Regions from separate parts of the Homo sapiens genome. Here region 2 is linked to region 1. Evidence: fine-mapped expression QTL. Tissue or cell type: whole blood. Region 1 holds a variant in brackets; the other region holds the start of a gene. All regions are shown on one strand. Distances are from middle to middle.

Region 1 (2,500 bases):
CCAACATAGTGAGACCCCGTCTCTAAAAAAAAAAAAAAGAAAAAAAAAAGAAAAAAGAAAAAAAAGTTTTTTTAAAGAGACAGAGAAAGAGACTCAGAGATTGAGACTGAGAGCAAGACAGAGAGAGATACTCACAGGGAAGAGGGGAAGAGGAAAACGAGAAAGGGAGGAGAGTAACGGAAAGAGATAAAAAAGAAAAGCAGGTGGCAGAGACACACAGAGAGGGACCCAGAGAAAGCCAGACAGACGCAGGTGGCTGGCAGCGGGCGCTGTGGGGGTCACAGTAGGGGGACCTGTGATGGCCCTGGGGACGACGCTCAGGGCTTCTCTCCTGCTCCTGGGGCTGCTGACTGAAGGTGAGTGGGATCCCAGCCTTGTACCCAGCGCCAAGTGGCCCCCATTTCCCACTTACCTTCCCTAGACAAACCCTCTGCCCTTTCCTTGCACCGCGCTGTGTCCTCAGGCCTGGCGCAGTTGGCGATTCCTGCCTCCGTTCCCCGGGGCTTCTGGGCCCTGCCTGAAAACCTGACGGTGGTGGAGGGGGCCTCAGTGGAGCTGCGTTGTGGGGTCAGCACCCCTGGCAGTGCGGTGCAATGGGCCAAAGATGGGCTGCTCCTGGGCCCCGACCCCAGGATCCCAGGCTTCCCGAGGTACCGCCTGGAAGGGGACCCTGCTAGAGGTAAGGGATCAGAGCCTGAGACCCTCAGCCACCAGCGGAAGCTGCGGCCCTGACTTCCGGCTCCCCCTGCAGGTGAATTCCACCTGCACATCGAGGCCTGTGACCTCAGCGATGACGCGGAGTATGAGTGCCAGGTCGGCCGCTCTGAGATGGGGCCCGAGCTCGTGTCTCCCAGAGTGATCCTCTCCATCCTGGGTATGGGTGAGAGACGCCCAGGACCCATGAGTCTGGGCTTCAAGCCCTCCCCTACCCCGCAACCCGGAAGTCCAAGCCCCCAGCCTCTCCTCTCCCAGACTCTGGG[T/C]ACCGAACTCCAATCTTCAAGTCCTTCTCAGTGCTGGAAGCTTACCCCAGACCCTTCTCTCACCAGTTCCTCCCAAGCTGCTCCTGCTGACCCCAGAGGCAGGCACCATGGTCACCTGGGTAGCTGGGCAGGAGTACGTGGTCAACTGTGTGTCTGGGGACGCGAAGCCAGCACCTGACATCACCATTCTCCTGAGTGAGTGTGGGTGAACTGGGTGGCAGGGGGCAGCATGAAGCCTCTGGAGTGGGAAGGGTGTGTGTTCCTGACCAGTACCCTTCTAAGGGCCCCAGAAAAGATGTCATCCCTGGGATGGGGACCCAGGAGAAGGTGTGGGGAGATGCTGAGGCCAGTGTGGGACCCAGTGGATGCGAGGGCACATCGAGGGCGGCAGCAACCAGCACAAGGCTGAGGCCCAGATAGAAATATGGGCAGTAGCGCTGGTGCAGACATGAGAAGCTGAGGGATAGGGTGCATGGTACAACCCAGCAAGGAGTTGAGAAGAGCGGGGAGGCCCAGGACCCAGCACTGAAGACTGCGGCATTCAGGCAGTCCAGAAAGTCGGGAGGGGATGCAGCTCTGCCCCAGGCCCTTTTCCTCTAGAACGAGGAGGGAGGGGGCATCGCACCCACCCTGAGGACTTCCAGGCCATGCTCCCCAGAATCTATCTTGCGGGGAGCCTGGAACCCCTCTAGCCCTCTTGCTGCCCCAAGGTGGACAGACAATATCTGACATCTCTGCAAACGTGAACGAGGGCTCCCAGCAGAAACTCTTCACTGTGGAGGCCACAGCCAGGTGTGGAAACTGAAACAACCCCCCAACCTTGACCCCTAATTTTCCCCATGGGAACCCCAGACCCCAGGGATGCAAGCATGAAGCTTGGGCTAGGTATGAACATCTGGGACCCAATTCTTCATCCTGACTCTCAAAGCTTCTTCATGGGGAACAGAGGTGGTGGCTCATGCCTGTAATCCCAGCACTTTGGGAGGCTGAGGTGGGCGGATCACCTGAGGTCAGGAGTTCAAGATCAGCTGGGTCAACATGGTGAAACCCTGTTTTCACTAAAAATACAAAAATTAGCCGGGTGTGGTGGCGCATGCCTGTACTCCCAGCTCCTCAGGGGGCTGAGGCAGGAGAATCACTTGAACCCAAGAAGTGGAGGTTGCAGTGAGCTGAGATTGTACCACTGCACTCCAGCCTGGGTGATAGAGCCAGATTCTGTCTCAAAAGACAAACAAACAAATAAACAAACAAAAAAACTTCATGGGAACCTCAGTTCTAGAGTCCCAAGCACTAAAGTTTTGGTCAGATGTGGGGCTCTCTAGGCTCCAATTCTCACTGTTCACCCCCAAAATCTCTCCCATGGAACCCTGGATCCCAGAGGAGATCAGCATGGGGACTTAGACCAGGTGTGGGGACCAGAGGTGACATCCCCACCTCTTCTCCCTGACTCCCCAAATTTCAGATGATGACTCTGACTCTATAACCCTGACTTCTCATCCCAGGGTGACACCCCGGAGCTC
Region 2 (2,741 bases), 52 kb before region 1:
CATCCGGAACAAGAGCCTGGAGAGTGGGGGCCGGAACAGGGAGACAACTCAAGCTCTGCGTCCTGGGGCTGTGCTTTGGCCACAGGCAGAGAGGAAGTCCCCTGCGAGGGGGCGGGTCCCAGGTTCCTTGGAGTTGCGCTTGGGGAATGAAACGGGAGACAGATGCAGAGAGGCTGGGGTGTCCCAGGACCCTCGGGGCTGTGCGGCGGGCACACGGGGTGCTCCTGAACACAGGCTGGGGGTCGCTGATTCTGGGACTCGGAGAAGGACACGGATCCTCTGATTTGGGGACGGGAGGTGGGATGGTGACCTGGAGAACCACTGGGGTGTTCTGGGAGCCTCTGGCCAAGCTTCTGGGGTGGAAGTGATACCTGAAGTGCCAGGGTAAAAGGCAGGGAGTGATGATCTCTCTCCTGGAGTCGTCTGAGCTGCAGCCACTGTGGAAAGAGAAAGAAGGTGGATGAGGGTGGAGAGAAGGTCCACAAAACAGAATGCTCAGCCTGGCACCGTGGCTCACGCCTGTCATCCCAGCACTTTGGGAGGCCGAGGCAGGAAGATCGCTTGAGCCCAGGAGTTCGAGACCAGCCTGGGCAACATAGTGAGACCTCGTCTCTACAAGAAATACAAAAATTAGCTGGAAGTGTTGGTTCACACCTGTAATCCCAGTTACTCGGGAGGCTGAGCTGGGAGGATCACCTGAGCCCAGGAAGTCAAGGCTGCCGTGAGCCGTGATTGTGCCACTGCACTCCAGCCTGGACAACAGAGCAAGACCCCATCTCAAAATAAACAAACCAAAAAATAGGGTGTAGAGAAGGAAAGGTAGTGTCCTGAGAAGTAATCTCCAGGCTGGAGAGATGGAACAGGACCACATGGGAAGGGGACTCCCAGAGACATGGAGAGTGACAAGAAATTGGAAGTGGCAGCAGAGACCCAGCCATGAGAAGGGGACGCTAACAGGCAGCCCCTCCAGAACTCCCTGTCTCACCCCCTTCCGCCCCCAAGGACCCAGGCCCTGAAGCAGAATGGATCTCCCAGAAGGGAAGGGGTGCAGGGAGAAGAACCCCACTTTCATCACCCGTCCCTGCAGACGTCACCCAAGCACCCATCTCACAAACGCTCTGCCTACCATCCCCTGTAACCACTGGCTTCACCTGGGAGCAAAAGCAGGAAGAGGATGTGACCCAGATGGATCATGGTGGACTGGGGTCTGGCAGGGGTCTGGCAGAGGACTGTGGTCCAGAGAAGTCCAGAGGAACTGTGGGGGAGCAGAGAAGTAGCAATAGCGGATGTCACCCTGCTGGTGTCAAGGCCATCTGCTTCCTGTGTGTGTTGAGGGGGTGTCTCCGTTACTGCCTTTGGTGAACGAACTCAGGGGGAGGGTCAGAGAGACCAGGGAGGCTGCTGGCCTGGTCCAAGTGGGAATGACAGGTGGCAAGGGTGTGCAGGCTAGGGAGATCTGGAAATATTTTGGAGGTAGGGCCAAGAAAATTTGCTGATTAAATGAATGTGGGTGTGTTTGAGAGGGATCCTAGACAGCCAAGCCTTCTGGCATGAAACGCTGAGAAGATGGGAGTGTCTGCTGGCAGAGATGAAAGGTAGGGAAGTGGGTTTGCGGGGAAAGTGACGAGGTTTGGGCATACAGGGTTGGAAATGCCTGACAATCTCCCTGTGGAGATGCTGAATAACCTCACTGCATTTAGGAGTTCAGGGGATAAGGCTGGTCTGGAGATGTAAATTTGGGGGTTGATGGCTTATGGATGGTACTTAAAGCCACAAGACTGGGTGAGATCACCAAGGAAGTGAGTGCAGACAGGATTCTGCCCCTATCACAACACACACTGAATGGGGGAAGAGGAGGAACTTTGCCAGGGAAATGGAGAAAGAGGGAGGGGACCCCTGAGAGCATGGCATCTTGAAAGCAGGGGAGAGGCCACCGCAGTGGCTCATGCCTGTAATCCCAGCACTTTGGGAGGCCAAGGTGGGGGGATCACCTGAGATCAGGAGTTCAAGCCAATATGGTGAAACCCCGTCTCTACAAAAATACAAAAATTACCCGGGCATGGTGTCAGGCTCCTGTAATCCCAGCTACTTGGGAGACTGAGGCAAGTGGAGGTTGCAGTGAGCCGAGATCTCACCACTTTGCCACTGCACTCCAGCCTGGGCGACAGAATGAGACCCTCTCTCTAACAATAAAAATGTAATAATAAAATAAAATAGAAAAGCAAGCAAGCAGGGGAGAAATAGGGCCAACATGGTCAGTGCTGTGAAAGGTCACCAAGTGAAACTGAGAGTGGCCTCCCACTGGAATGCCAGCTCCAGGGCTGGGAATTCCTGCCTGCTTAGTTCACAATACACAGCAAAATGCCTCCTCTGCTGCAATAAATTATTTTAAATGATGAATGAGTAAATGAAACCAGACCTCTAAAAAGGGTGATGTAGGGGAGAGGGAGAAATTGAGCCACACCCTATACCCTTACCCACAGACCCTTCCTCTGGGAGTCTAGACCCCCAGTCCTGCCTCCCTCTGGACCCAGTAATATTCTCCCTGCCCCCACCCCATCTCCATCCCCACTCCTACCCCTACCCCCATGGGCAGGACCCAGGAGACAAAGCCTCCAGCACCCCCTTAGACACAGACCCAGAAATCCAGGCCCCAGCCAGGCACCATGGCTCAAGCCTGTAATCCCAGCACTTTGGGAGGCCAAGGCAGGCGGGTCACCTGAGGCCAGGAGTTCGAGACC

The links. PIP is the estimated chance that this variant, and not a neighbour inherited with it, causes the effect.
Region 2: it holds the start of HCST, and the variant in region 1 is fine-mapped to the expression of HCST in whole blood (TOPMed, PIP above 0.99).

Annotation. Positions count from the first base shown.
Region 1 is chr19:35,849,636-35,852,135 of GRCh38, reverse strand. It overlaps NPHS1 (NPHS1 adhesion molecule, nephrin), which reads left to right. Exons shown (of 29, transcript NM_004646.4): 1 at 1-356; 2 at 464-679; 3 at 752-874; 4 at 1,047-1,175; 5 at 1,691-1,772; 6 at 2,483-2,500. The coding sequence starts at 299. It also overlaps a transcript of KIRREL2 not described here. Among named protein-coding and RNA genes, the nearest start is that of NPHS1, 1.6 kb to the left of the region's middle. RefSeq lists enhancers at 1-345, 346-986. The variant T/C (reference allele first, on the strand shown) is at 981.
Region 2 is chr19:35,901,047-35,903,787 of GRCh38, reverse strand. HCST (hematopoietic cell signal transducer) reads right to left here and starts at 1,259. Exons shown (of 4, transcript NM_014266.4): 1 at 1,152-1,259; 2 at 372-437; 3 at 1-16. The coding sequence starts at 1,194. It also overlaps a transcript of NFKBID not described here.